4 linked regions of the Homo sapiens genome follow. The protein of the gene in region 1 interacts with the protein of each later gene in a pairwise test. Each region holds a gene or a part of one and is shown in the gene's direction. Other genes may lie near its edges.

Region 1 (7,723 bases):
AAGTGTCACGAAGAAAATAAAACAGGAGGATGTGTTGAGAAAATGACTAGGGGAGCTACTTCGGGTTTTTTACTTTTTCCAATTTTTAAAATTTTGATTTATTTAATTCAGGTAGTTTTGAATGGGTAATAAATTCACTTGGTTTGAAATGCAAAGAGTGCAAGATGGCATACAATGAAGTCTTTCTCTATCCCTCTCACACTTCAGCCACTCAATTTTCCGTGGTGGGGGAGGTGGCTTTTGAAACAGGGGAATCAGGAAAGGTCTCTGAGGAGGGGACAGTTGAGCAGAGACCTGACAGAGAAGAGTCAGCTCCGCAAATACCCCAAAGAGTGTTCTAAGGCAGAGGGAACAATCAGTATGAAGGCTTAGAAGCAGGATAAAATTTCCCCCCTTTTTTTTTTTTTTTTTGAGACAGAGTTTTCACTCTTGTTGCCCAGGCTGGAGTGCAATGGTGCAATCTCGGCTCACTGCAACCTCCGCCTCCTGGGTTCAAGTGATTCTCCTGCCTCAGCCTCCCAAGTAGCTGGGATTACAGGCACGTGCCACCACACCAGGCTAACTTTTTGTATTTACTACAGACAGGGTTTCACCATGTTAGTCAGGCTGGTCTCGAACTCCTGACCTTAGGTGATCCACCCAACTCGGCCTCCCAAAATGTTGGGATTACAGGCATGAGCCAGCCACCAGGTCCGGCCAAATTTGGCATTTTCAAGACAGACTTGAGACCTCCCAAGTGCGGTGGCTCACACTTGTAATCCCAGCACTTTGGGAGGCCGAGGCAGCTTGATTCCAGGAATTCGAGACCAGCATGGGCAACATAGCAAAACCTTGTCTCTACAAAAAAAAAAAAAGATCTCTGTGACCACCAAATTAACCCCACACTCTCTATCTCACTGGTAACCCTTGCAATGAGTTTAAAGTGGACTTTTTACATGTATTAATATATGGTATTCTGGGTGTTTCCTTGATTTTTTTCATTCCCTTCGTATCTCTGGCAACTTTTTATCCACTTAATGGATGTTTTCATTCTATGTCACCCACGTCATTTACACACTTCATGCCACCCGTTTTTTTAAGAGACAAGGTCTAAGTCTGTATCCCAAGCTGGAGTATAATGGCGCAATCATCGCTCACCACAGCCTCGAACTCCTGGGCTCAAGCAATCCTCCTACCTCATCTTCCCAAGTAGCTGGGACCACAGATGGATGATACCACACCCAGTTAATTTTTTTTTTTTTTTTAGAGATGGGGTCTCGGCCAGGCGCAGTGGCTCACACGTGTAATCCCACCACTTTGGGAGGCCCAGGTGGGCAGATCTTCTGAGGTCAGGAGTTCGAGACCAGCCTGACCAACATGGAGAAACCCCATCTCTACTAAAAAATGCAAAAATTAGCTGGGCTTGGTGGTGCATGCCTGTAATCCCAGCTACTTGGGAGGCTGAGGCAGGAGAATCGCTTGAACCCAGGAGGTGGAGGTTGCAGTGAGCCGAGATTGCGCCATTGAACTCTAGCCTGGGAAACAAGAATGAAACTCTGTCTCAAAAAAAAAAAAAAAAAAAAGAGAGAAATGGGGCCTCACTATGTTGTCCAGGCTGGTCTCAAACTCCCTGACCTCAAGTGATCCTCCTGCCTTGGCTTCTCAAAGCACCAAAGCACTGGGATTACAGGCATGACACACCTTGCCCAGTCCACACCTCCTTAAGTTGCTGCTCACTCCGTGCTTCAGAAAAGGATGTCCAAGGGTTTCACTATTCCCTGCCCTCATCTTTTTTTTGTTTTGTTTTGTTTAATTTTTTTTGAGGAGTCTTGCTCTGTCTCCCAGGCTGGAGTGTAGTGTCACGATCTTGGCTCACTGCAACCTCCGCCTCCGGGGTTCAAGTGATCCTCCCACCTCAGCCCCTCAGCCACCCAAGTAGCTGGGATTACAGGTGTGTGCCACCATGCCTGGTTAATTTTTTGTTTTTGGTAGAAACGGGGTTTCACCATGTTGGCCAGGCTGGTCTTGAACTCCTGACCTCAAGTGATCCACCCGCCTCGGCCTCCCAAAGTGCTGGGATTACAGGCGTGAGCCACTGTGCCCAGCCTCCCCTGTCCTCTTGATGAACATTTAAGCTATTTCCAATTTCTTGCTCTCACATCACTGCTACCGTAAAGATCGTTATGTACATATGCAAGCGTTCTCTTACACAGGGGTCTTGCTACCTGTTTTGTACAGCACTTAAGCTAAGAAGAGTTTTTTTTACAGTTTTTAAGCCTTGTAAGAAAAAAGAAAAACTGAAGAGTGTGTAAACCAGACCCTATGTCTAGCATATCTAAAATATTTCCTATTTGAACTTTTACAGAAAATGTTTGCCGGCTGGGCCTGGTGACTCACACCTCCAATCCCAGCACTTTGGGAGGCTGAGCCAGGCTGATCACTTTAGCCCAGGAGTTTGAGACCAGCCTGGGCAACACAGCTAAACCCTGTCTCTACAAAAAATTAGCCTGGCATGGTGGTGTGGACCTACAGTCCCAGCTACTCAGTGGGCTGAGGTTAGAGGATCGAATGAGCCCTGGTTATGCTACTGCGCTCCGGCATGGGCAACAAAGACCCTGTCTCCAACAAACAAACAAACAAAAAACCATGTTTGCTGACTGTTGTTGTAGTGTAGGTGGCACCCAGAAATGCCACCCCTCCTATGTCACAGATGGGAAAGCTGAGACCCAGAGAGGAGAACACAGTTACCCAAGGTCACACTGAACTGGTAACTCATTCAACTAGGTAAGTTTGTTGAGCTGCTGAGCCGGGCGGGCCTGGCTGGGGTGAGTGAGGTCCAGAAATTGATTAAGTCAACTGGGTGCAGTGGCTCATGCCTGTAATCCTAGCACTTTGGGAGACTGAGGCAGGCAGATCACCTGAGGTCATAAGTTTGAGACCAGCCTGGCCAACATGGTGAAATCCCATCTCTACTAAAAATACAAAAATTAGTTGGGCTTGGTGGCCCGTGCCTGTAATCCCAGCTACTTTAGGAGGGTGAGGCAGGAGAATTGCTTGAACCCAGGAGGGGGAGGTTGCAGTAAGCGGGGATCGAGCCAGCGCCCTCCAGCCTGGGTGACAGCGAGAGACTACATCTCAAAAAAAAAAAAAGAAAAAAAGAAATTTAGTCTACCCATTCTCCCAGACAACTCAGCCTGAGGAAACACACTGAGAAACAATGATAACCTCCGAGGAACAGGGTTCAAGGTCTCCCAGAGTGGGGTGGAGAAGGGGAGGGGAATTAATGTCAAAGCTTGGCCTGGAAGGATGACGTGCTCCCCAGGTAAAGGAGGTCAGGACAACATCAACATCCGGACATGGGACTCGGCTTGGACATACGCTGGAAAAGTGGATTCTCTCACATAGTCAGCTGGCCCTGAGAATTGTTGGTTTTACACTCAGACCTTGGTGGCTTTCCGGGTTCTGGGGGCTCAGGCAAGAGGGCCATAGGCCAGATTCATTCCCTGTCTCCAGGCCTCAGTTTACCCGTGTGTAAATGTGGAACTAACTGATTTCCCAGGGCTCGGGCGCCTCACCCGGGCCAGGTGGCGCTCTACCCAAGGGGCGCGACCAAATCAGTGACGTCACTCGGGGCGGGGCCGGCAAGACACGCTGCGGAAGCCTCAGAGGGTGTCTGGGCTCAGCCCGGAGCCGGCGTGTGGGGGCGGGGGCTCCCGGGAGGGTCTCCTCACCTCCGGGCCCTCCTGAGGGCTGGGATGATCCTGCTGTCCTCCGCAGGCGAAACTGAGTCAGAGCGGGGCGTGCGTGGGCCGGAGGCTTTACACACCAAAGAAGCCGGCGCCTCCTGCCCACCCCGGGCGAATGCCGGGCCCCCCACTCCCGCACTCCTCGCCAGTCCCCACCTCCACCCCACCCCACCCCCGACCCTGCGGCTGTGAGTCAGCGACCGACCGCGCCCCCTTGGCCCACTTCCTCCTCACCTTCCCGGGGCGGGCGGGGTGGGGTGAGAGGGGTTGGGCCCTACTCCCCCGACTTCCACTCCCGTGCGGGTGGGGGTCTCGCCCCCTTAGTAACCTCTCCGAAATTGACAGAAGAGAAACGCTGGGGAGGGGCGGTGTTCCGAAGATGGGATTTCAGGGAGAAAATCTGAGACCACTTGCTTAACTTGAGGGTCCTCCTCGACCCCCAAAATTGAGCGGAGTACGAGATGGAGAAGTCGATGGGGAAAGAAATCGCGCCCCTTCCGAGACCCTCCTCAGAATTCCCACAGTGGGAGCGAACTAGGAAGCAAGGGAGGTCCCCTTCCCCTTCACCAACTTGCCCCTCAGGTGGGGGTGATTCCCAGGGTGCACCCCTGGGCTACAACATTGGGGAGAGGAGCGAGATCGCGGAAGCCGAGGGTGCAGAGTTGCCCTTTTAAGCGCCCTCCACCCCCTCGCCTGGAGGCGCACGCGGCCCCTTTAAGGCGCGGGGCATTGTGGGTGCGGGGAGTGGAATTTTGGAACGAAATGTAACGAAGAGAAGTACAGTAGTAAGAGTAACACTGTAGCCGCCACCGGCAAGGGGTGCGCGCTGGGGAGCGGACGCTGCATCCCCTTTCTGCTGCAGGAACCTCTCATCAGACCGCCTGAGGGAAGCGGCGCCCGGAGACCCGCCCCGGCCCGGTCCACATTCTCCCCAGGAAGCCGGACTCTATGGGGCGGGACCCTGGGGGAGCCTGAGCCGAGCCCGGAGCCAGCCCCGAACCCCTGAACCTCCAGCCAGGGGCGCCCCGGGAGCAGCCAGCCCGTGGGCGAGCCGCCCGCCCGCCGAGCAGCCATGAGGTGAGCCGGACCTGCCCCCCGACCCGTCCCCGCCCGGGCGGGCTCCGCGCCCCGCCTTTGTCCCCCTCCCCCCCAGCTAGCTCCGGGCTGGAATTTGGGGACAGATCCTTGGGAGCCTCGGATTTGAGCTGAATCCCCTTGGACGCGCCCCAGAACCGTCGATCACTTCTCCACGACTGACTCCCCAAGCTCGGGGGGTGGTGGCGGTGAGGTTCTCCTGGGAGCCCTCAAGATTTGGGGGCGCTCGGAGGACTCCCGAATTGTTAAGACTTTTTTTAGAGGACCTCAAAGTTGGCAGCGACTCCCCGCAGGGATGCCAGGATTGAGGCAGGGCTCAGACTCTCCTCCCCCTCCCCCCAGACTTCAGCTCGAGGTCCGGGAAGGATTGTGGGGGACCGATTTGGGATACCCTGGGACTTGGAAGAGAGACTGAGACTCAGACCCTGGGTGTGCAGGTCCCCCGTTTACTTGGTGCTGGAAAAAGTCTCCCCAAGTGGGACCGCGCTCCATAACTTCGGGGGTACTTCTTAATCCCCTGGATTTTGGGGGTCACTTAGGTCTTCCTGTGGAGGAGGCTGGTGTGAACCGATCCAGGGACCTGGACGCAGCCTCCAGAGTCTGGTGGGACCCCCCCCTTCCCCGTCGCTCCGCACACAATCTGCTTAACTGGCCGTGCCTAGGACCGAGCGGGCGCTCGGAGCAGAGGGCGGCTCCCCGCCTCCGGCCATAAGGGCGGCCCGGCTCCCCCACCTGCGCGGCCCTGGAGAGGGAGGGGGCGCGGCAGCTGGGGGAAGGGGGCCTTTGTCTTCCTGACTCACCTGTCGAGACAGCTGGTGTGGGGGGCGGGCACCAAGCGCTGTAGGCCGGCTGCCTTCCCCACCACGGCCCCTCCCCCTTTGCTCACCGTCCCCCTATCCACCCGGAGCCTTGGGGTTGGAGGAGGGGGAGCTGGAAAGCTTCAAGGTCATAGCCCTCTTCCCTAGGGACCCAGGCTTCCCAGATAATTCCAGCTATCTTCCCAGGAATTTAATCCTGGGGGTGGCGGCCCAAGGGACCCAGGGATTTGGTCTGGCCGGGGCCTCCCCCGAACTCCTGGGCTCACCTGAGGGCGGGGCCAGTGTGGGCAGGGGGGCCCAACCATCCCCCCTATTCTTCCCTCCCCTGGCCCCCCATAATCTCTCCCATGGGGCCAGAGCCTGACAATACTATCTCCCTTCCTCTACTCTCTCTGGGACTTCCTGCCCCAAAGCCCCCAGCCTGAGCAGGGAGGCCCCTGGGGACGGTTGGGGATTAACCCCGTGGTGCCCACATCCCCCGCATTTCCTGAACCCCTGCCCTTTGACATCGGAGTGGCGTGGCATTCCTTTTTATGACCACTAGAGAATCCCCCTCCCGCGTTTGTTCCTTCTGATGTGAAAGGCATGGCTGGAAAATTTGGAGCAAGGAGGACACCCACAGATACCCTCAAGACTTCCTGCCTATCCGCTCCCCATTATAGCAACATCCCTTCCAAGTCCGCCCTGGAGAGGGGTCAGTTTAGGGAGCGTCGCTCTCTTCCTTCGCCCTCTTCCTCCGGGACTCTTCTCTCCCCTTGCCCCCCAGCCCCGCCCCTCCACCCCCCCTCGCGTTTCCGGTCCCAGGCTCGGTGGAAGGCGGATGGCGGATGTCCGAGTTAGTGCTGCCTCACTCACTGCAACCGTAAAAGGGCAGGAGCGGTGTCTGGGCCGGCCCCCTGTCCTCCCCACCACCACCACCACCACCAGCACCAGCCCTGGAAGCCCTGGCCCTCCCACAAGGCCCACCTCTTGCTGTGGTGGTGGCCAAGCATCCCGTCTTGTGGGGGTGCTGGGGTGGGGTGCGGTGCAGAAATGACCAGATGCCTGTCCCACCAAAAGGCCACTCCCACCTTTCCAGGGGGTCTCCCCTGCAGGTGGTCACACCCGACTTCCTGGGCTGTGCCTCTTCTCCAAGGACAGCCAGAATTCAAAACCCATGCCCCTATTACCCAGCTGGGGAAACTGAGGCTCAAAGAGAAAAAGACATGGCCAAGATCCCTCAGAAATTCCTAGGCAACGTTGGAGGGGTGGAGGAGCCTAGGATCCTCTGATTTCTGGCTGGTTTGGCTGGGGACAGTCCTGGGGGCAGTTGGAAGAGAGGATGTTAAGATGGAAAATTACAAGATATAGTTCTTTTTCTCCCAGTTTGACAAATATTTGTTGAGTGTTGGCTGTGTCCGGGACTGGAGCTGGGGTGCTGGGAAGACAGAGAAGCGAGGCAGAGGTCTAGAATCTCAGGGCAGAAGGGACTTGGGGAGAACTGGGGTCCATTTCTTTCTTCTTCCAATAATAGCTATTTTTATTTTTAAAAAATAAGAGACCATTTGATCAAGCATCTATTTTATGTGGGGCATTTTTGTGCCTGACAGCAATTCTGGCTGGTTTTTTTGTTGGTTTGTTTGTTTGTTTTGAGACGGAAATTTTGCTCTTGTTGCCCAGGCTGTTGTGAAATGGCATGATCTCGGCTCACTGCAACCTCCGTCTCCTGGGTTCAAGCGATTCTCCTCCTCAACCTTCCGAGTAGCTGGGACTACAGGTGCCTGCCACCATGCCCGGCTAATTTTTATATTTTTAGTAGAGATAGGGTTTCACCGTGATGGCCAGGCTGGTCTCGAACTCTTAACCTCAGGTGATCCACCCGCCTCGACCTCCTAAAGTGTTATTATTACAGACGTCAGCCACCACACCTGGCCCCTCATGGCAGTTCGAACAATGATACTATTACAACCTTGTGGCCTCCCCACCCCGGTACTCAGTTTATAGATGGGGAAACTGAGGCACAGGAAAGTTAGGCAAGGTGCCTATTAAACTCAAACAGGGCCAGGCGCCGGGGCTCATGCCTGTAATCCTAACACTTTGGGAGGC
Region 2 (7,485 bases), on another chromosome or scaffold:
TGTTAACAATTCTTTTTTATTTGTTTATTTTTTTGACACACAGTCGCATTCCTCGCCCAGGATGGAGTGCAGTGGCACGATCTCGATCTCGGCTCACTGCAACCTCCACCTCCTGGTTCAAGCAATTCTCGTAGCTGGGATTACAGGCGCACACCACCAACCCGGCTTATGTTTGTATTTTTTCTAGAGACGGGGTTTCTCCATGTTGGCCATGCCTAGTCTTGAACTCCCGGCCTCAAGTGATCCTCCCACCTCAGCCTCCCAAGGTGGTGAGATTACAGGCATGAGCCACTGCGCCTGGCTGTGCTGTTAACAATTCTTGACATCTTCTGGAAATGTGCTATTTTACAAAAGCACGTATACATATAGCTTGCATATACAAAATGTGTGTATGTGTTCACATGCAGATAGATATATAAACAGACAGAATTTGATGGTGTCATGAGACAGAAAGAGAAAATGGTAGCCCACAGGTATAAAGTAGGGGTGTTGGGGTGAAGGCAGACTTGAAAGGGGCTGTTGATGGACCAGGTAGGAGGGCCTGAGGAGAAGTGATGGAATACAAGGATGGAAGCAAGGATGGGGCAGGAGAGTCTTAATATTTGTGTTGCAAAAAAATTTTGCAGTTTAGGAGGTGAGAAATCCAACATCCAGTTAGCCTCAGTTTCCTTAACTAAAAAATGGGATAATGATGTATATTCCTCACAGGTTTATAGTGATGATTAGAAGGGGCGAATATATATATAAACAAACATACATATATGTTTGTTTGTTTTTTGGACAGAGTCTCGATCTGTCACCCAGGCTGGTATGCAGTGGTGCGATTTTGGCTCACTGCAACCTCCGCCTCCCAGGTTCAAGTGATTCTCCCATCTTAGCCTCCTGAGTAGCTGAGACTACAGGCACGTGCCACCACGCCCAGCTAATTTTTGTATTTTTAGTAGAGATGGGGTTTCACTATATCTTGGCCAGGTTGGTCTTGAACTCCTGACCTCAGGTGATCCACCCACCTTGGCCTCCCAAAGTGCTGGGATTACAGGCGTGAGCCACTGTGCCTGGCCAGGGCTAATATATTTAAAGTGCTTAGCATTGCACCTCAAACAATATTCTAAGCATTCTCTCAGCGTGTGCTGCTATTATAGTTGTTGATGTTATTAGGGTGCTGCTATTGTTGCTGTTTTCAGAATGCTTCACGTGGTCCCTGGCCCGTGAGTGAACCTCTATCCATCTGCAGTTGGCATATGGAAAGAACCTCCTGGTCACATTTCTCTTTCCATTTTAGAAATCATTCTTTTGTTGTGACACTGTCTTTTCATTTTCCTTCCCTGACTGCTCTTAACTTCCTACTTTATGCTGTGCACTCTTGAAGAAAACTTTCTGGTACCTGATGGTTATAAATCCTTGGAGGCGCGTGAAGATGTTTTAGGTAGTAAAGGGCAGTGGCCATTTTCTCACTTTGTCTCCCTGGCCTGGTCTTAAGCTGTTGGGCATTCTTTAGTCAGGAACATCTTCTTATTTGCTGTACTTCACACATACTGCCTAAGGATATCAATTAGAATTGCTTACTTAAGAAAAATGCCCAGCAATCGTTAAGGCCACTCTTGTTCATTTCCTGCATTTTTTTTTTTTTTTTTTTTGAGATGGAGTCTCACTCTGTTGCCCAGGCTGGAGTGCAGTGGCGTGATCTTGGCTCACTGCAACTTCCGCCTCCTGGGTTCAAGCGATTCTTCTCCTGCTTCAGCCTCCCCAGTAGCTGGGACTACACGCTCCCGCCACCTCACCAGGCTAATTTTTGTATTTTTAGTAGAGACTGGGTTTCACCACGTTGGTCAGGCTTGTCTCAAACTTCCGACCTCAAGTGATCTGCCTGCCTTGGCCTCCAAAGTGCTGGGATTACAGGCGTGAGCCACTGCGCCCAGCCCATTGTCTTCATTTTAAGAGCACTGACTCTGCTGCTCCTCTTGAGACATCTTGGGCAGTGATTCTGTTCTTCTGGGATACTCTGGGTGTTTCTACTTGTATTTAGAATGGCTGGCTTAAAAGTCTTTGTTTGAATATTCCGCATTCTGAATGCTCTTAGTTGTCAGTAAAACTATGCCTGCCTACGCACTCTTCTATTTCTGATTTAAAAATAGGTTCAGCTGCCTAACAATTACACATACTCTATTTTGCACGCGCACATTACTTAAGGAGACATTTAGAGGGTAGATAGCTTTTATTCCTATGAGTTATCTTGAAATCATCTTCTTAACTATCTTTTTTTCCCCAAAGGGGCCATATTTTGAAGGATTTGTGATGAGACTTTTGGTCTGTGAAGCCCAAGACACAATCTCCAACATGCACAGGAAATCCAGTATCAAATTTCTAACATGTCTTCAGAGACAGGCCCAGGGCTGGCTTGAGCGTGTCAGAGAGGTGTGCACTGCGTACTACCCATCATACATGGCCACACATGCCTGTGGCTGTGAGAAATACTGGTGGTGACAAAGACAATGAGATGCCAGAGAAAAAGATCAGTGGGGTTTGCAAAAGTGATTAAGATGTCGTCCTAGGTATAATTAAAGACTTAATAAGGTTGAAGGAAAGAGAGGACATTGCACATACCGAGGCCCCTGAGAGATCTGCCTGGCAACCCAGAAAGGGACATATGGGGGAAAACGCCTTAGTGTAACCAGGTCAGAATTTTCATTCTGGGCAGAACTGGAATTTGAATAATAATACTGAGTCATATAGCGCATACAGCTATGACATTTCATTTATTTCTCTATATAATGCAATAAAGTAGATGGATTAACCGTGACGTTTACAGATGGAGCAGGGGAGAATGAAGAGGCGTCAGTTTGGGCATCAGGCTGGATCTTCACACTCTGACCTCACTCTGCTCTATCCTGCCCAGTGTTGCTTCACCTGATATCAGGGGTGCAAGGCAACCAGATCTGACACCAGTTTCAGTTTAGATCCTGCCTTTACCTGGGTGTGACCCGGGTCCATCTCTTCAGCTCGGCCTCTGCTTTCTCTTCATAAACTTTTGGGGTTAGTCCTCGGATGATCTCTAAAACATGGCCCAGGTGCTCCTTGCCAGTAGAGTGTAGCCGGATTTGGAGGGACTGGACACTCAGTGTGAACAAGACGAAGGCCTCAGGAGGCAGTAAAAGCTGACAAGAGGAGAGAAAATGAAGCGCCTACGGGTGCATACTGGACTAGCGGGCGAAAGGCCATGACTCCTTAGTTTGGAGAAAGAACTGGGGCCGAGATTGGGGAAGTTTCCCAGTGCAATTAAAAAAAAAAAAAAAAAGAACTAGAAGAATTACCCAGGTCTGGCTTCTTTCGTGTAGCCTGGGGCTGAGTCGCAGGCTGAGAAATCCAGTCTGGCCAGTAGGGGGCTCCACCAAGCGCAGTCTCAGAATGCCCAAGAGCTCCACCGTCGCCCGGGGTCTCCACCAAGCGCAGTCTCAGAATGCCCAAGAGCCCCACCGTCGCCCGGGGTCTCCAAGAGGAGTGGGTCGTGGTGGGCGTTGAAGGGCCGTAAAAGACGAGCAGCCCGCGTCCGCGTCCGTCCTCCCGGGTCTCCAGTCCGCAGGCGGCCGCCGCCTCGGCCCCGCCCTCCCACCTCCATTCCCGGCCCCGCGGACCCGAACGGTCCCTCTCGCAACCGATCTGCTGGCTGGGGCGCTGGGGATGCGAATTCCTAGAAGCCTTAAGAGGCTGCCCAGCGTTGGAAGTTCGTATCCCCAAGAATGCTGGAGGTTCCGGCTCACACACCCCCTCCGGGCACAGAGTCAGCTGGGGGGTGCTGGGAGGGAGAACGCCCCGCTCCTCACCCCCCATCCCCGTGCACCCTGGAGCCCAGCTCCATACGTTCGGCCACCCCAGGCGGACTCGGGGTGGCCGGGTAGCGGGTGGTGGCAGGAGGGGACCGGGTAACGGCAGGCCCGAGAGGAGGTCGCTGGGCCGGGCCGGAGGCGCACAGGGGCTGCGTGGCTACCTCGGCGGCACCCGCCCCACCTCCGCCGGCTAAGCCCGGAGGGGGACGGTGAGTCAGATCTCGGGCACCCGCGGGTCGGGCGGGGAGGGGGAGGCAGGTCAGGAAATGACATCAGAGGCCTGTGCTCAGGGAGTGGGGGTCTGAGCCGGGCTGGGGCGGCGGGGGCGGCAGTGAGTGGGGTGGGGGCGAGCGGACCTCGGCGGAGCCTCCGGCCTGAGGCAGGATCAGGGCCCCTTCCTGGGGGAGTTTCCTGCCTGGTCCGCCCTTCCCCGCTCTCCCCGCCCCCTCTCCGGGCCGCTCCTTGTATGGTCTGGGCGCCGCTCTCTCCCCGCCCCCTCTCTTCTCCCTCCCTCCTCCTTCCGTGTGTCCCTCCCCGCCCGGCTGGAGGCTGCTCCGGACCGGGACGCAGAGTCTGCGGACCCGGCGCCGAGGCGGCCACCCGAGACGCGGCGCGCACGCTCCGGCCTGCGGTGAGGCGCGGGGAGCGGCAGGGCGGCCCCACGGGGAGGGGGCGCGGGGCGCCGGGAGGGGGCGAGTGGGGGTCACCAAGGGGAGCTGGGACCGCCTGGGGCTCCTGAGCCCGGCTCCGCGCTGCGTAACCCGGCGACCCACCCCAGCAGCCCGGCCCGGCCATGGCGGCCCCCCGCCCGTCTCCCGCGATCTCCGTTTCGGTCTCGGCTCCGGCTTTTTACGCCCCGCAGAAGAAGTTCGGCCCTGTGGTGGCCCCAAAGCCCAAAGTGAATCCCTTCCGGCCCGGGGACAGCGAGCCTCCCCCGGCACCCGGGGCCCAGCGCGCACAGATGGGCCGGGTGGGCGAGATTCCCCCGCCGCCCCCGGAAGGTATGCGGCGGGGCTTGGGGAATGTACCCCGGCAGGAGCCGGGGTGGGGGGCAGTCGTTTCGGGAATTTGGGGATGTCTGGAAAGGTTGTTGCCGAGGGGGCTGGGCGCAGCCACCCTGTCCCGAGCAGATGTTCTTACCTCATCGTGGAGCTCGTGGCTGGGAGCCAGGGCTCCTGGGACCGTTCCAAGTCCCCCGCCTGGGAGTGGGAGTCGGGAATGTGGGGCACGAATCTTCCCCTCCGGGTCCGTTTTCCGAAGTGTAACGGGAGCTGCACCACTCCTCGGCAGTGCGCCCGGCCTTTCCTGACCTGGTACTCCCAGGGCGCCCTGCGCCCCTCCTTTGCTTCCCCACACGCTCTGGGACCCCTGAGAGAGTTCTTGGGTTAGGGGTTAGAGCGGTTAACTGAGGGGAGCTTGGGTGAGGGGTAGAGGGACCCCGGCCGACGTCTTTCTCCTTCCTACCCCAGACTTTCCCCTGCCTCCACCTCCCCTTGCTGGGGATGGCGACGATGCAGAGGGTGCTCTGGGAGGTGCCTTCCCGCCGCCCCCTCCCCCGATCGAGGAATCATTTCCCCCTGCGCCTCTGGAGGAGGAGATCTTCCCTTCCCCGCCGCCTCCTCCGGAGGAGGAGGGAGGGCCTGAGGCCCCCATACCGCCCCCACCACAGGTACGGAGGCCTGGGAGGGGCGGCTGCACTGGACACCCCCAAGGAGAGGAGAAGAGGGCCCTTTCTTCTTACCTCCCCTGCACCTCTGCCTTGGGGGTGGGGGGATAGAGGCATGGAATAGGTGCTCTGACCTCTGACCCTCTAGCCCAGGGAGAAGGTGAGCAGTATTGATTTGGAGATCGACTCTCTGTCCTCACTGCTGGATGACATGACCAAGAATGATCCTTTCAAAGCCCGGGTAAGGGACCGGAGAGTAGGAAAAGCAGGGCTCAGGGCCAGAGAGACTGGGCATAGAACTAAGGAGGATGGTGTCCTCCTGACTGCATCTCTCTTCCCTCTCCCACCCCTTGCAGGTGTCATCTGGATATGTGCCCCCACCAGTGGCCACTCCATTCAGTTCCAAGTCCAGTACCAAGCCTGCAGCCGGGGGCACAGCACCCCTGCCTCCTTGGAAGTCCCCTTCCAGCTCCCAGCCTCTGCCCCAGGTTCCGGCTCCGGCTCAGAGCCAGACACAGTTCCATGTTCAGCCCCAGCCCCAGCCCAAGCCTCAGGTCCAACTCCATGTCCAGTCCCAGACCCAGCCTGTGTCTTTGGCTAACACCCAGCCCCGAGGGCCCCCAGCCTCATCTCCGGCTCCAGCCCCTAAGTTTTCTCCAGTGACTCCTAAGTTTACTCCTGTGGCTTCCAAGTTCAGTCCTGGAGCCCCAGGTGGATCTGGGTCACAACCAAATCAAAAATTGGGGCACCCCGAAGCTCTTTCTGCTGGCACAGGCTCCCCTCAACCTCCCAGCTTCACCTATGCCCAGCAGAGGGAGAAGCCCCGAGTGCAGGAGAAGCAGCACCCCGTGCCCCCACCGGCTCAGAACCAAAACCAGGTGAGGGATGGTGATAGGACAAGGCTTGGTACCAGGGCACTGGGGCGGGGCTGGGTCAGGAGCCAGAGCATAAGCATAAGGTGATTGGAGAGTCAGGGTGGACACGGGGGTTGCGGGGTGGCGGGATAGGAATTTTCATCCTCTGGGGTTAGCCTGGTGGAACAATGGTAGGAAAATGCTCCTCTGGAGGAGAGGCCTGGCTGGGTGTGGGGCTGGGTGGGGCCTGGCTGGGACGGCGCAGAGAGCATGGGCTCTGAATTAGGAGGATCTGGTGGACCTTTCCTTGTGCCTTTACCCCAGAAAGTTAAAGGGAGGGATGAGATCACCAGTTCCACCTTGGTTTTTCCCATTCTTGGGTCTTGAGTTAATCTCCCTGCTCCTCTGAGCACTCTTTCTGCCTGAGGGCTTGGAGGTAAGAGACAGCCCCAGTAAACACTGGTTGAGCCAGCATCCACCACGTGCCAGGCACTGTGCTCTGTGCCCAGGAGGGTAGGACATGGGAGGGAAGAGATCTCTGCAAGAAGCTCAGCCTTCAGGTGTCAGATGGACCTGGAATGGAATTCTTGGCTCAGCTTCTCCCAAGTCCTTAGACTGGGCAAGTTAGGTGAACCCTGAGCCTCAGTTTCTCAATCTTTAACATTCTCTACTCCATACAGTGGTTGTGAAGATTGGGTGAGCTAATACCTAGAGAGTGTTGGGTTCTGTATCTAGTACAGGAATGCTCAAAATAGAAAAGCTGTAATTACAAAATGGTTCTTGCCTTCTAGTTCAGGAAATAAGATCGTCCAATTTCTGGTGACGAAGATGACCCTGATGGTCATCTAGTCCAAGCATCCAGAGTCCACTGATAGTGTTGATGTCTACCTACACTCGGACACAGCATAGGAAGAAATGCCAAGGGCCAGTGAGCTTTGCAGAATCCTGTGAGTCACAGGCACTCAGACCAGGGAGTCAACTCGGGGAGTCAAATTAGGAAAGGCTTCGAAGGATGGGCAGGACGTAAGAATCCAGAGAGGAGAGGGATGTTTGGAGAACAGAAAGTGGAAGGTTCCTGTAGGAAAATGATAGAGCTATACTTGGAGAGGCAAGCGGGGCTGGAGGGTGTAGGAGGTGAAGT
Region 3 (7,501 bases), on another chromosome or scaffold:
GTATATTTGGTATATAGAAAGGGAAATGAGTTGTTATGGCTAGTATTGATCATCAGTGTGGGGGTTATAGATCCTAAATCTAGATTTGTAGTTCCTGTCTTTGAATATCTTTGGTTAGGGAGAGAAGGGAGAGGAGAATAATTAGTGCATTCATGAAGTACAGTTGGGAGACTTTAATATGATACTAAAAGAATTCCAACTCTTCTAAGAAGAGGTAGGGTCTGGGAAACATTGGCTTAAATGGTAGAGAACCTTTGTGCTCTTTGAGAATAAATGAACAAAATTGCATTAGCACAGGGAAATGAGGTTGGAGACTGAAAAATAACAATATTCACCAAAACCCTAATGGTGGAGAAGTGATACATTAGTAAAGACTGAAATTGGTAGCTGGGTTATGTTAAAACACATTTCCTATCTCTGATTACAAATTGTATCTCAACTGCTGGCAACTCTTTGAATTTATTGTGCCGAAACTTGCTTAATCATACAATACATACGCTCTTCTTTTTGTAGGCGGCACTCCCCCTATCGCACACTGGAGCCAGTGCGTCCTCCAGTGGTACCAAATGATTACGTACCTAGCCCAACCCGTAATATGGCTCCCTCGCAGCAGAGCCCTGTGAGGACAGCTTCTGTGAATCAAAGAAATCGAACTTACAGGTATTTTCTCTACCTCAGTGCAAAATGTGATGGTCATAGTACCATAATCTGTTCAGATTACTTCAGGTAAATCTCTCATTTTCCAAGCACTAAGTTCTTTTCCTCACTCTATTCTCCCAAACCTCATCTGATTTCACCTCTCTCTCCTCATGTTCTGATTCAACTTTGAGCAGTCAGGAAGTTGATAAAGAACAGACATCTCAAAGTGCAGACTTCTCTCCAAGTTTTAAGAGTTCAGTTGATCTGGAAAAAAAATTATGGACCAAATGTGGGAAATGTCAGGTTGTTTTTTGGTGGAACTTTACAGATGAAAAACTATACATAATAAAACATTAATATGGGATAGTACATCAGAGTATGATTATTAATTAAAATTACTCAAATCTGTTTAGGAAAATGTTTTTGTTTTATTATAAAAGAAGTTTCTTCAGATAGGCATTAAACTGGAATATAAAAAGGCAATATTTATTGTTTTAATGTGTTAAACCTCAACATTTATCACTTGTATTTATGGATAATTTTTTCAAAATGTGGTCAAAACAAGCTTATTGAACTCAGTTTTCCCCTCAACTTTATTAATAAGTAAATATATATATATATATACACACACACACACACACACACACACACACACACACATTTTTTTTTAACCTGTCACTGACTTGGAGCTCAAGGAAATTTTATTTTGAAGTGGTACGCTTTTGAATTACCTTTATTGTAGCTACATTCATCTCAGAAAATGTCGGGAAGTGCTGATGATCTCTTACTGTTTATAAATACTCATGTTTTGGTGGCTCTTATTTCTTTAGCAGCAGTGGGAGTAGTGGAGGGAGCCACCCAAGTAGTCGGAGCAGCAGTCGAGAGAACAGTGGAAGTGGTAGTGTGGGGGTTCCTATTGCTGTTCCTACTCCATCTCCTCCCAGTGTCTTTCCAGGTAAAACATTCATGGTGCCTCGTCTTCACTTTTCCTTTCTGAATTTGATTCAATTTGTGATTTAATTATGGTGGGCTTTCTTCGTAATCAGGATTTTTTTTCTTTAGGAATCATAAATATTGGGAAGTCTATATATTTGTTATTTGTAAGCAAGTGATTTGTAAGTGTTTGCTCACTTTGCACTTCTCTTTATGCCTTTGGTGATGTGGCTCAGTTGCTGCTTTGAGGTTTCAGATCACACTTTGTTATGAGTACAAGTTTAATTCCAGCTAGTGTTATGACAGTGCAGTCTTTGGACACAGTGGGAACTCAGTGTGAGAACCATATTAGTAACAAAGGATTGGGCAGATATAAAAAGTAGTTTTGACAGTTAAATTTAGTGGCTGTATTGGAATTTAGTAGTCTCTGAAAATACTACCCTCTTTTCTCTGAAACAGAAAAATCTGCTTATTTGATTCGAGGAGATACACACTTAAAACTTAGTTTTGAAAACGTGACACAAAATACATTAATAGAATGTTACATACTTAATTTACTTATAGTAACAAGTAGATAATGCCTTTTAAAAATCATAAAGATTTGTGTTTTAAAAAAAATTTTTAATCTGATAATATGGAATATGTCTATTTTCTGATTTGTGTAATTCAAAATGGAAAACTGTTGTTTTTTAGTGTATTATGTTAGTTTTGTATACTATATACAGAATGTTATGCTAAAAATAACAATACGAAGGGAACACTTTTCTTCTGGAGTAGTGCTTTCAATTGAAAAGGAATGTTTGTTTTTAATGAATTGAAAAAATCTGCACATTACCCTGAGCATCTTGAATTATTTGCTGCTTATATAGTAATCCTTTAGCATAAGTTTTATTCTTTTTTTCAACTCTGTTCTTTTGGTTAGTGTTAAGCACTGAATATCTAACATTAAATACTCTAATACCTTTTCTAATCCTGCCTCATGTGATTGCCTCATTAATGCTGCCTCTTACTCCTCTTTCCCCTCAGCCCCTGCTGGCTCTGCTGGCACTCCTCCCCTTCCTGCTACTTCTGCATCTGCCCCTGCTCCTCTTGTTCCTGCTACTGTCCCTTCCTCCACTGCCCCAGACGCTGCTGCTGGGGGTGCCCAGACCCTTGCTGATGGCTTCACTTCTCCAACTCCCCCTGTTGTTTCTTCCACTCCCCCTACAGGTAAGTATTTGCTTATTCATTGGCAGGCAGATGCAGTCATCTGGCTATTCTCTTACTTGCACCTCTGATTTTTGTTTGTTTTTGGTTTTGTTGTACTTCGTATTAAAAAAAAATAAGAATAATGTACTAACCAGAAAGTATGTGACCAAAGATTAGCATTTCCTGAGAAAATTGAGGTAAAGTTTCTCATACATTTTTCCAATAGGGTAGCATAAATTTGTGTTTTTTTATTGCTTGAATTTCATTTATTAGAGATTTTTAAGTTTAATATGGAGCTACCTTCTATACAGTTTTTGGAAATTATCATTAGAAATATTTTCATTATAGGTTAAGTGATTAACAAAAGTCTATTACAATAATTCTAAGGTATATTTTATAGGAAATATTTGATACAACAAATGGAAAGCCTCTGTAAGTCTATTTTTAACAGAATCTGTTGCTTATTATAGCAGCATTGGAAACTCATAGACAATGGACTTTTAAAGAATTTCAGGTTTATTTAAGTTGGCTGGTGTTTTAAAATTGCAATCTAAAATCTGTTTTGATTGGGGAGGAGATAGACTCAATTGCTACGAAATATATTTGTAGAGTTAATGATGCTGGCTAGTAACAGGTTCTTGTCTGCTATAAAATGTATGTGTTTGGACATATATCACTGTATTAGTCTGTTCTCACATTGCTATAAATACCTGAGACTGGGTAATTTATGCAGAAAAGAGGTTTAATTGGCTAACGGTTCTTCAGGCTGTACAGGAAGCATGATAGTGGCATCTGCTTGGCTTCTGGGGAGGCCTCAGGAAACTTACACTCATGGCCTAAGGCAGAGGGGAAGCACACTGGTCACGTGGCCAGAGTAGGAGCAAGAGGACAAGGCGGGAGGTGCTACACACTTTTAAACAACCAGATCTCATTATTGCAAGAACAGCTCCAAGGGGGATGGTGTTAAACCATGAGAAACCGCCCTTGTGATCCAGTCACCTCCCCCTAGGCCCCACCTCCAACATTGGGGATTACAATTCAACATGAGATTTGGGCAGGGACACAGATTCAAAGCATATCAATCACCGTAGTGTTCCACTTGCCAGTGAAGAACTTCATGGCATTTATATTCAGCTTTGCTGTTATACATGTTAAACATATATAAGATCTTTACATGTTTTAAAAGACACTTTTAGCCAAAATGGATTTTGGGTGATGTCTTGTGGGATTCCTTCTATATGACTTTTAAAGAAAAGCTTTCTGCAGTAGATAAATGTAAACATGGGGTGTTTTTTGATCCAGATACAACTGTTAGGCCAAACTAACTAGTTAAATATAGGAATCTCGTTATGCTCCTGCTTTGATAAAGAATGCATCAGAAAGGACAAATCACCCCCAACTGAGAGTCTATGTTTTAGTAATTAAATATTAATTGAATAACAGGTGCCTGGCTCAGTGTTCACTAAATAAACATTTGTTATGTGAGGGGATAATTAACTGTGGTTTTTAAAACAAAAAGCAAGGTAAATGTCTTATTAATAATTTATATCAGGATAGTCTGTTTTATACAGTACCTGAGTTACCAAGCAATTGTTTTTCTTTTTACCAAGGTATAACTTATGTACAGTAAAATTCACCCTTTATACCATATATGTTTGTGAGTTTTGGCAAAGGTGTACTGACATGTAATTGCCACCACAATCAAGTTACAGAACAGTCCTATCATCGCAAAAATTTCCTCCATGCCCCCTTTATAGTCAGTCCTTCCCTTCCACTCCCAGCTCCTGGTAAGCCCTTGATGTGTTTTTTTTCTCTAAAGTTGTGCCTTTTTAAGTATAACATAAATGAAAGCATATAGTATGTAGCTTTTTTGATCTGTTTTTTTTGGCCAGATGCATTTGAGAATTACCCATGTTGTTGCATGTTTAAGTATTTCATTACATTTTATTGCTTAGTAGTGTTGTATTGTATGGGGATGTACCACAATTTGTTTATCCCTTTCTCAGAGGACATTTAGATTTTTCTAGTTTTGAGTGCTTATGAATAAAGTTGCTATAAACATGTACATACAGGGTTTTTTTTGTGCACATGGGTTTTTATATCAGGTAAATACCTAGGGAATAGAATTGCTGGGTTATATTGTAAGTAAATTTTTAACGTCATAAGAAACTGCCAAGTTGTTTTCCAAAATGGCTGTATAATTTTACACTCCCAGCAGCAATGTGTGAGTTTCCAGTTGCATCCTTGTCAGCCCTTGGTGTTGCCTTTTTTAGCTTTAGCCATTCCAATACATGTGTAATGGTTTCTCATTACATGTGTGGTTTGGATTTGCATTTTCTTAATGACTAATGATATTGAACATTTTTTTCATGTGCTTATTTGCCATGTGTATATCCTCTTTGGTGAAGTATCTGTTCAAATGTTTTGTTCCTTCTCACCTTTTTAATAGGGTTTTTTTCCTTATCATTGAGTTCTTTTATATTCTAAATATATGTCCTTTATAGATTATGAGTTACAAATATTTTCTTCCATTTTGTGATTCGTTTGCTTATTTTCTATTTTTTTGGCGGGGGGAGGAGGGGCGGGCGGACAGAGTTTCACTCTTGGTGTCCAGGCTGGAGTGCAATGGCAGGATCTCAGCTCACTGCAATCTCCGCCTCGCGGGTTCAAGCGATTCTCCTGCCCAGCCTCCCAAATAGCTGGGATTACAGGCACCCACCACCATGCCCAGCTAATTTTTGTATTTTTAGTAGAGACGGGGTTTCACCACGTTGGCCAGGTTGGTCTTGAACTCCTGACCTCAGGTGATCCGCCCGCCTCAGCCTCCCAAAGTGCTGGGATTACAGGCGTGAGCCACTGGGTCCAGCCTGTTCATTTATTTTTTTGATGTTGTATTTCAAATAGCAGAAATTCTTCATTTTTATTAAGTGTTATTTTTCAAAATTTTTTTAAATGAATCGTGCTTTGATGGCATATCTAAGAACTCTTTACCTGAAGTCATAAAGATTTTGTTCTGTGTTTTCTTCTAGAAGTTTTTAGTTTCAGGTTTTATCGCTAGGTTTATGATAATTAGGTATATATATTTTTAAAACCCCAAATGGTAAATCGACTCATTAATAGTGTGAATAGTGTCTTTTTTTTTTTTTTTTTTTTTTTTTTTTGAGACAGAGTCTCACTCTGTCACCCAGGCTGGAATACAGTGGCAATCTCGGCCCACTGCAATCTCCGCTGCCTGGATTCAAGTGATTCTCCTGCCGTAGCCTCCTGAGGAGCTGGGATTACAAGTGTGAGCCACCACACCCAGCTAATTTTTTGTATTTTTAATGGAGACAAAGTTTCACCGTGTTGGTCAGGCTGGTCTTGAACTCCTGATCTGAAATGATCCACCCGCCTCCACCTCCCATAGTACTGTGATTAAAGGCCTGAGCCACCATGCCCAGCCCATGTGAGGTTTTAGACTAGATCTAACTATATAAAATTCATAATGATGTTAATCCAGATGTTTTTAACTTGATCGTAGGTTTGTATTAGTTTGCTATAGATTAATTACTGAAATGCTAATTGTATTCAGTGGTTCAAATAACTAAATATGCCTTTTAAATCATAGTTTATATGTTTTCATTTTTATCATGGTTACAGAGGCTTCTCAGTTGATAGTGGATTATGTTTAAGCTTGAGTGCTTAAGTTTTTGATACACATGTAAGATGTTTAAATGTTATAACAAGCCTTGAGTGCTCTTATAATCCTTATATGACTCCATATGAATCTAAGCTTGGTAAACTTTCAGCTCCTGTAGAACAATTTTAGTCATATAAAACCATTTTATAATCATAGACAAGATGAAAAATTGTCAAAGTGTTGTTTTCCTCTAATACTTTTAATTAAAATTACCAAGAAGATAGTCTCATATTAAGGTAGAATAAAGATGGTAAGACTCAGCTGAGAAATATGAAGCCTGGAAGAGGATATGACTGCAGTGTTTGATCATGAAGATTTCAACAAATCAAGCATTCATCAAATTCCATATTACATAAGTCTTATCTCACTGTGTTTCAAGTAGTTTATTTTAGAATTTAAAAAATTTCAGGATAACCTTAGGCACAAATGGATAGATGAGTGTGCCAGGTATCATCTGTTCCTCCAGTCCCCCCTCCTCTACTCTCCCCTCTTCTCCAGTAGGCTGACCTCCATGAAATGTTTCAGTGGATTCTTTTGCCCTCTGGCTTCCTGTTGGGTTTAGCAAAAGTGTTTTTTTTTTCCTTTTCACTTATCTCCTCCTTTTCTCCCTTTCTCTTTCTCCTTTCCTTTCCCCTCTGCTATCCTCTTGCCCTCCTCCACCTTCATCTCCTCCTCCTCTACCTTCCTGTCCCCTTTCCGCTTTCTTCTCCACCTGCTTATTTCTCCGCCTCCTCTTCTCTCTTGCCCTCCCCTTCTCCCTTGTCTGCTATTGTGCTCTCTCATGGGTGCTGTGGTGCTCTGTCTGTAAGAAAAAGTTCTCAGCTTAATGTAGGTGGGAGTGCAGTCAAGGTAAAGTTTAGGGAGTGGATTATATTATTAGGAAACTGATGGATTATGGAATCATGTCTCCAGTTGACATTAGCTGTGGAAGAACTCTCAAGAGAGCAAAATACAGTGAAATTGATGATAACTATATATGGACTTAGGGATGATATTAAAAATAAGATATATTTTGACCCTCTTTTTATATCTTAATTTTTTTCATGATTGTAAATTTTTTAG
Region 4 (7,884 bases), on another chromosome or scaffold:
GTGAACAGGGAGGTCCCCAGAGATGCAGGGCCAGCAAAGAACACAAGGCATTAGCCATCTTTGATGTGGCTTTTGGAATGAAGTGTTTCAACCCAGAGCAGCTGAGGCAAGGGCAGAGGAGGAGGGGAATCCACTTGGAGCAAAGGTCTCAAGCAGAAAACTCTTCTCCAGGGCTTGTGCAGAAATCAACCCAGAGTTCTCATAGGGCAGCAGTGGGAGTCATGGACACCAGGACTCATCTGAACCATGATGTGCAGGTCCCTCAGTGTTCAGCCAAGGAGGGAAATAGTGTTGAGAGCAGCCTGTGGAGCCAGAACATCTGGCTTTTTATCCCGCTTCTGCCCCTTCCTAGCTGTGTTCTTTCAGGTGAGTGCCTTAACATCTCTGTGTCACATTTCTGTTAGGTGGGGTGAAATGACATGCCCACATCATAGGGAAGTGACTACTCATGCTAATTTGCCCACAGCAGTCCTGGGTTATGTTATTGTCCTGGCATCCCATTGATTTTATGTTTCTTTTCAGCCACCAAAATGTTGGAGTTTGGCTAACAAATAATACGGTCACCCTTCTGCTAAGGTTGCTGCTAGGAATGTTGTCACAGGGTTCAACAGTGCCTTTCAAACAGCAAACTGCTACATAATTATGATTCCTGCTCTACTGAACATTAAAAAGCAAGTGGAAGCACATTTGGAGCTGAGTTCTGGGAAGATTCATCGGACGACAGTATGTAGGGTCTGTTTAGGAGAGAATTTATATGTCAATTAGAGCTCAGCAAAATTCTTTAAAATGGACTGAGAGAAAAGATACCAAAGCCTGGATCACAATGCAGTGCTTTATTTTCCAAGTTAAATGTTTTTGCTTTGTCTAACTATGGTTATTGTGATATATTTTTGAGAATATTAAGGGCAGACTAATTTTCCAGTGTTCTATGATGAGCTTAGTAGTCCTAGGAGTTGAATCATAAATACAACTCTTAACAATAGGAAAAGATGATGAGCAACTGACATTTAGACAGCACTGACTCTGCACCAGGCACTGTTCCCAGTACCTTACCATTTTTACTTTACTTATGAGTCACAACCATTCTATGACTGTTTCCATTTTGAAGCGGACACAAATCGTTAAGTCTCCTGTCCACCGTGGCACTGTCAGCAAACAGAGGAGCTGGGATGTGAACACAGGCAGTCGGTCTGGCTTGGGGTCCTCACTCAGGAGCCATCAGCCATGGGCCTATGAAGGAAAAGGGCTGCAGAATTCAGCAGAGATGCAGCTTCCAGGGCCGGCCATTCCAGGCTTTTCGGTACAAATACAGAAATCACTGAGAAAAGATGACTTTCAAACAACATTGCTATTTAATATGAAGTATGGCAATGCCTTTCCTTTACCCAAATCCCTCATGTCCCTACATCTCAGCTCTTTTGTGAGCCCAAGGCCAGGGTAGATGTCTGCCTTTTTTTTTAAGGCACACTTTTTTCCCCTCACAAAACACAAGCACATTTTAGAGAGAATGTGTGAATGACTTATTGCTTTGTCATAGTAGAGGCTCAGTAAACACTTGTCACAGAAACACTGAAGACTGAAGGACACTTGGCTTCCAGTTTCTGAACTGAATTAGGGACCTGAATAAAAGTCCCGGCCAGGTGCTGTGGCTCATGCCTATAAACCCAGCACTTTGGGAGGCTGAGGTGGGTAGATCACCTGAGGTCAGGAGTTTGAGACCAGCCTGACCAATAAGGTGAAACCCCATCTATACCAAAAATACAAAAATTAGCCAGGCATGGTGGTAGGCACCTGTAGTCCCAGCTACTTGGGAGGCTGAGACAGGAGAACCTGGGAGGGGGAGGTTGCAGTGAGCCGAGATCAAGCCACTGCACTCCAGCCTGGGTGACAGGGCGAGACTCTGTCTCAAAAGAAAAAGAAAAAACAATTCTTCCCTTTTGGGAAGAGAAAAAATTGGACCAGCAGTACCGTGTTTTAAACTTCTGATTCTCCTCTCTCTCCCTGCAAATACTGGCTTGCAAATGAGCCTTTCTTGGGCCAGGTATGTCTTATGACTCACCAGAGAATGATCACTGTCAGATCTGGATACAATATGTGAGTGAAAGAAAACACCATCTCTTTAGTGGGGCACCATGTAGGTGGTGTGGGGAGTTCATTTTAGATGGGTAAGATAACTCTGCGTGAGTGTTTGTCCCTGTGGGAAAGAGGGCAGGTCCATAAGGACTGGGGCACCAGGCAGAGACCCATTAGGTCTTGGCCAAGGAGACAGTCTCCGTTTCATGATCAAAGTTTTTCACTTCATTTATGGAAGAAGGATGCCTGCCATGGCCAGCTGGGTGAAAGTACACCTATAAGTACAGAAACCTTCTTTTCTAGCCTCTTCCTAAATCAATTTTGTTCTCAACTGGAAAATATCTGAGGCTCCAGCTGAATGATGGAAAGAAAGACGTCATGGGTAATCCGGACAGCAAATAATGCATCCACGGGAAGTGAAGAACCGACTCATCTCTTTGGCTCTCTCATCCGTATCTTCTTTTTTTCTTTTGAGATGGGGTCTCACTCTGTCACCCAGACTGGAGTGCAGTGGCGTGATCTTGGCTCACTGCAACCTTCGCCTGCGAGGTTCAAGTGGTTCTCTTGCCTCAGCCTCCCGAGTACCTGGGACTACAGGCATGCACCACCACGCCCATCTAATTTTTTGTATTTTGAATCGAGATGGGGTTTCATCATGTTAGCAAGCATGGTCTCAATCTCCTGACTTCATGATCTGCCTACCTTGGCCTCCCAAAGTGCTGGGATTACAGGCATGAGCCATCACGCCCGGCCTCTTTTATAAAAAACCCAAGCCAGCTTTGTATTTCTTGTTCCCATGACCTTCACCATGCCCCTAATTAAACGAGGGTGGGTTTTCTGTCACATGAGGCTGTCCTGTCCTCCTGATCCCATGTGGCCATGTTCCTTGCCTTCCTTACCTGGCCAAGTGCCATCTGCCCTCTGGTCTCTGATCTTGTCATTCCCTCTGCATGGAACTGCATCTTCCCTGGATCTGTCACTAGACAGTGTCGTCCACTCATCCAAATGTCAGCTGAAATGGCATGGCCTCCTCCTCTCAGTAGTCAGTCCATGACATCATTTTGCTGTTGTGGATATTTTGAGTTCTTTGCAGTGATTACTACTTTCTCATATCTCTCTTATGTGGCAGGATGCTTGTTACCTCCCTTATTGGAAAGTCAGCTCCATGAGAGCAAGGGCTTGGTCTAAATTGTGCCTATAACTGAATTTATGGTGTGCAGCTCACTGCCAGCTCATAGGGGATGCTCAGTAGTTATTTAAAGATGGATGGCTGCATGCATGGATGAAATCTTGTCTTTATACATGACTACTTTGTACTGGGCTGTGTGAAACAATTTTTTTTTTGAGACAGAGTTTCACTCTTGTTGCCCAGGCTGGAGTGCAATGGTGTGATCTCGGCCCACTGCAACCTCCACCTCCTGGGTTCAAGCAATTCTCCTGCCTCAGCCTCCTGAGTAGCTTGGACTACAGGCACGTACCACCATGCCCAGCTAATTTTGTATTTTTAGTAGAGAAGGGGTTTCTCCATGTTGGTCAAGCTGGTCTCAAACTCCTGACCTCAGGTGATTCACCCACCTCAGCCTCCCAAAGTGCTGGGATTACAGGCATGAGCCATTGCGACCGGCCATGAAACAATCTTTACATGAAGCATCCTTATACAAATTCTGCATGCTATCCCATTCCGCCTTTTATTTTCTTCAAGTGATGAAAAGGAAGGATGCTCAGAGAGACCAGCAAGGACATGGCAGGACTGCAAGTTGCATCCAGGGTCCAAACCCTCATCCCTGATTCCAAATTCCATCACCACCCACCACCCAGCACTGCCTGTCCAGCCCATCAGTTACGCTACTAATTCACAGCATCCTTTGAATCAGTGGAAAGAAAACCCTAAAAAGTTACCAAAGAACTAAACAAAGTTATCAATTAATTTATAATTAACCGAGATAATCCTTGTAAAAATAACTTTCAGCGGAGGGTGGATGGCCTTAAATTTCCCCACAAAAGGTAAAACTTTCCCAGACATCCCTTTCTGAAAATGAGATGTCAGTGGATGAGAAAAGCCTGCTCCCAAGAGTAGGTGTGAGGTATTGCACCTAGGCCCACTGCTGGGATAAGCTGGCACAGATACACGGGACATGATGCTTTCATTCTCACCTTAAAGAAAGAGACAGAGAAGAAAAGGAAGGGGAGCAAGTGGAGAAGGAATACAAGAAAGAGGAAGAGAAGCAGGAAGATTCTACATACAGGCTGGCTGTGTTTCCCCTGGGGCATGCTCCTGTTTACTGGTCCCATGCCAGGTTGACTCATTGCCTCGTTCATGGGTGGAATTAAGATGCCTACCTGGGGAATAAATAGAGCAAGGCTGGGTGCTCACCTCCACAGCGGCTTCCTTGATCCTTGCCACCCGCGACTGAACACCGACAGCAGCAGCCTCACCATGAAGTTGCTGATGGTCCTCATGCTGGCGGCCCTCTCCCAGCACTGCTACGCAGGTGAGTTCTGTGCAGGGAGGGCTGCCTCGGGGTTAGGGGTTGTCACTTGGGCCTCTATGGAAGAACTCCTGCTCCCCAATTCTCAGCAGAGATCAGCCCCAGTACAAAGGCTGTAGGTATAACAGATCTCACCATGTTGCCCAGGCTGGTCTTGAACTCCTGAGCTCAGGCAGTCTGTCCACCTCGGCCTCCCAAAGTGCTGGGATTATAGGTGTGAGCCACCACACTTGGCCTAAGATACTTGGAAATCTTCTGTGATGCTCTGAATGGTAATAGTGAAGCATCGTATGATTTTGAACCAAAGAAGACCAAATAATCTTCACGATATACTTCCAAGTCCGAGTGTTTCATTTCTCAAGTCTTCTCATTAAATGAAGTTTCATGAGGTTTAGCTTTTCTGGGCTGGGGAGTGGAGAGAAAGAAGTTGCAGGGCTTACAGGAAATCCCAGAGCCTGAGGTTTTCTCCCAGATTTGAGAACTCTAGATTCTGCATCATTATCTTTGAGTCTATATTCTCTTGGGCTGTAAGAAGATGAGGAATGTAATAGGTCTGCCCCAAGCCTTTCATGCCTTCTGTACCAAGCTTGTTTCCTTGTGCATCCTTCCCAGGCTCTGGCTGCCCCTTATTGGAGAATGTGATTTCCAAGACAATCAATCCACAAGTGTCTAAGACTGAATACAAAGAACTTCTTCAAGAGTTCATAGACGACAATGCCACTACAAATGCCATAGATGAATTGAAGGAATGTTTTCTTAACCAAACGGATGAAACTCTGAGCAATGTTGAGGTGTTTATGGTAATTTCATTTTCTTCCTATAAGCTTTTTAAATCCCCTGACCAGGGACAAGTGGGCTCTTCATTTCTCACTGACAATGCCAAAGCCACTAGTGAACAAGCCTTTTCTTACATTGGTTAATTTAGTTGAATGGTTAGTCTAATGACTTTGCCATCAAGAAAAACATCCAGTGTCCCTGTGTTGTCACTCTACCCAGAGAATCCTCAGTGGATGATAAATGAATAGGGCAAGAGAGGAAAAGGAAAGGTCGGTAGAAGTCTTACCTATCCCCAGAGCTCTCTAATTCATGCTCACAAACACAGACACAATCACACAAACACAGAAACACACATACACACATCCAGACACATGCAAACACACAGACACAGTCACAATCACACAAACACACACACATTCAGACATACACAAACATAGACAGACAGGCAAAGACACAGACACAGACACAGACACAATCACACCAGCACACAATCATCCAGACACAAACACAAACACACAGACAGAACCACACAACCACAGAAACACAGAGACACACACAAACACACTCAGACACACACATACAAACATATGTTCACTCTCTACAGAAAAAACAATTTTCCAGAAGACCCGCACCTATAGACCAATCTGCAGAGAAAACTTCTCTTCTTCAAAAAAAAGTAAAAGTGTTCTTTCTTAAAAAATGCCCTATTTTTCAACAGTTTGGAAAATACCATTTGAGCAAGATTCTATACATCTCAAATAAAAAGAATTTAAAATGCACTTCCAGGCAATCATAATTTGCTAGCATAAATGATGAGAAACCTTGGACTATCCAATAGGCAACTGTAGATCATGGGTATGAAACCACCATGGAGGAAGAATTGCCTCAAACAAAAACCAATAGTTTTGTATTTCTTTCTAACTATACATGTATATTGTTGAGGGTTTTCTTTAGCATTTATTCCCTATGTTAAATTCTTCTTTAATCCTTCCCTGGTAAAAAAAAAAAAAAAAAAAAAGTTAGAAATATACCAAACCCCTCCATTAGGATGAAAGTGAACATCACCTCAGGAAACCCTGACGCTTTCTACAACATGGATGAACCTTGAGGATATTATAGCGAGTGAAGAGTGAAGCAAAGAGTCACAAAAACACAAATGCTGCATGACCCATGCATATGGGAATCTGGGGAGCCAGACTCAGAGACAGTGAAAAAAAAAAAAACAGTGGTTGTCAGGGCTTGGGTGCAGAGAAGAAGGGGGAGTCATATTTAATGGGTCTGGAGTTTCAGTTGTGCAAAACAGTAATATTCTGGAGTTAGGTTGCACAACCACACGAATATACAGAACACTCCGAACTGTCCCCTTAAAATGGCAAATTTTATGAGATGTACATTTTACCACTATTAATAATTTGTTAAAAACTAATTATCAACTGCAGGGAAGGGTGATGGATTTGTTTCTTTAAAAGCTTCCTCAGACAGATCATAGTCTGCAGCTCCAATAATTAGTAGAGCACAATGGTGGTGGCAGAGGGCGTCGGACTGCTGGGATGCTGGGAATATTTCCACAATGGAGGGTTAGACGAGAGCTCAAAGTTTCACTTTTTTTTTTTTTTTTTTTTTTGCATTTGAGCTAAGATTTTAACAATCCTGTGAAAATAGGTAATATAGTCACGTATTTGTTGAATACATTATTTCAAAGAACCACAAACACACAGAAAAAATATTTAAAAAGTCCATGGTGGGGGAAATGATCCAGAAACAACAGCTCTTCTACTTCCAGCCCTAACCGTCTGGGATGCTAGATGGTTGTGGGCAAACCGTGGAAAAAGATAAGCTTCTGTTTTTCAAGATTTTATTTTGTTAGAGAGTGCAGAAAATCTAAGTGATGTCTCTGTTTTTGCTTTCTAGCAATTAATATATGACAGCAGTCTTTGTGATTTATTTTAACTTTCTGCAAGACCTTTGGCTCACAGAACTGCAGGGTATGGTGAGAAACCAACTACGGATTGCTGCAAACCACACCTTCTCTTTCTTATGTCTTTTTACTACAAACTACAAGACAATTGTTGAAACCTGCTATACATGTTTATTTTAATAAATTGATGGCAAAAACTGAAGTTTCTCTTTGTTCTACCGTAGAAAAGAGGCGTTAGAGGGCCTCACATATTTTACATACACACACACACACACTTACTTATTAAAGAACTCATGGTCATGGGTTGAGGACTCTGTGAAGCATTTGTTTCCTCAGTCTGACCTCTAAGCCTTGGTACTCTCTCTGAAGAGTGTTTCCCTGTCCCCATCCCACCACCTCCCCCGTCGACTCTCTCTGGAGTCCTCAGGCTCTGGGATGTGAGGCAGGGTTTCACTCAGAGGACCTGCTTTCACTCCAGTCCTCCCATCCACGCTGAGCCCTGCTGGCCATGTCAGGCTTCTCTGCGCTGTCTCTGGGCCTCCCCGAGATGTGCAGGGCCTGGGCCAGAGCCAGCCAGGGAGAGGAGTCCTGCAAAGCAGGGTGGCACCTGACTGGGTTTAAATTTTG

Evidence for each region.
Region 2: the proteins of VASP (region 1) and ZYX interact in binary tests that used the Homo sapiens proteins (3 or more experiments, as listed by UniProt).
Region 3: the proteins of VASP (region 1) and ABI2 interact in binary tests that used the Homo sapiens proteins (3 or more experiments, as listed by UniProt).
Region 4: the proteins of VASP (region 1) and SCGB2A2 interact in binary tests that used the Homo sapiens proteins (3 or more experiments, as listed by UniProt).

Annotation. Positions count from the first base shown.
Region 1 is NC_000019.10:45,502,975-45,510,697, forward strand, and holds the start of VASP (vasodilator-stimulated phosphoprotein), read left to right. Parts: upstream 1-4,504; 5' UTR 4,505-4,797; coding exon 4,798-4,802; intron 4,803-7,723. UniProt on the Homo sapiens protein: Ena/VASP proteins are actin-associated proteins involved in a range of processes dependent on cytoskeleton remodeling and cell polarity such as axon guidance, lamellipodial and filopodial dynamics, platelet activation and cell migration.
Region 2 is NC_000007.14:143,376,955-143,384,439, forward strand, and holds the start of ZYX (zyxin), read left to right. Parts: upstream 1-4,390; 5' UTR 4,391-4,455; intron 4,456-4,602; 5' UTR 4,603-4,617; coding exon 4,618-4,825; intron 4,826-4,964; exon of another isoform or gene 4,965-5,293; coding exon 5,294-5,493; intron 5,494-5,638; coding exon 5,639-5,731; exon of another isoform or gene 5,732-5,846; coding exon 5,847-6,368; intron 6,369-7,135; coding exon of another isoform or gene 7,136-7,147; exon of another isoform or gene 7,148-7,485. UniProt on the Homo sapiens protein: Adhesion plaque protein. Binds alpha-actinin and the CRP protein. Important for targeting TES and ENA/VASP family members to focal adhesions and for the formation of actin-rich structures.
Region 3 is NC_000002.12:203,394,187-203,401,687, forward strand, and holds part of ABI2 (abl interactor 2), read left to right. Parts: intron 1-513; coding exon 514-660; intron 661-1,469; coding exon 1,470-1,594; intron 1,595-2,598; coding exon 2,599-2,781; intron 2,782-7,501. UniProt on the Homo sapiens protein: Regulator of actin cytoskeleton dynamics underlying cell motility and adhesion. Functions as a component of the WAVE complex, which activates actin nucleating machinery Arp2/3 to drive lamellipodia formation.
Region 4 is NC_000011.10:62,265,707-62,273,590, forward strand, and holds SCGB2A2 (mammaglobin-A precursor), read left to right. Parts: upstream 1-4,451; 5' UTR 4,452-4,510; coding exon 4,511-4,565; intron 4,566-5,174; coding exon 5,175-5,362; coding exon of another isoform or gene 5,363-5,482; exon of another isoform or gene 5,483-5,497; intron 5,498-7,250; coding exon 7,251-7,289; 3' UTR 7,290-7,454; downstream 7,455-7,884.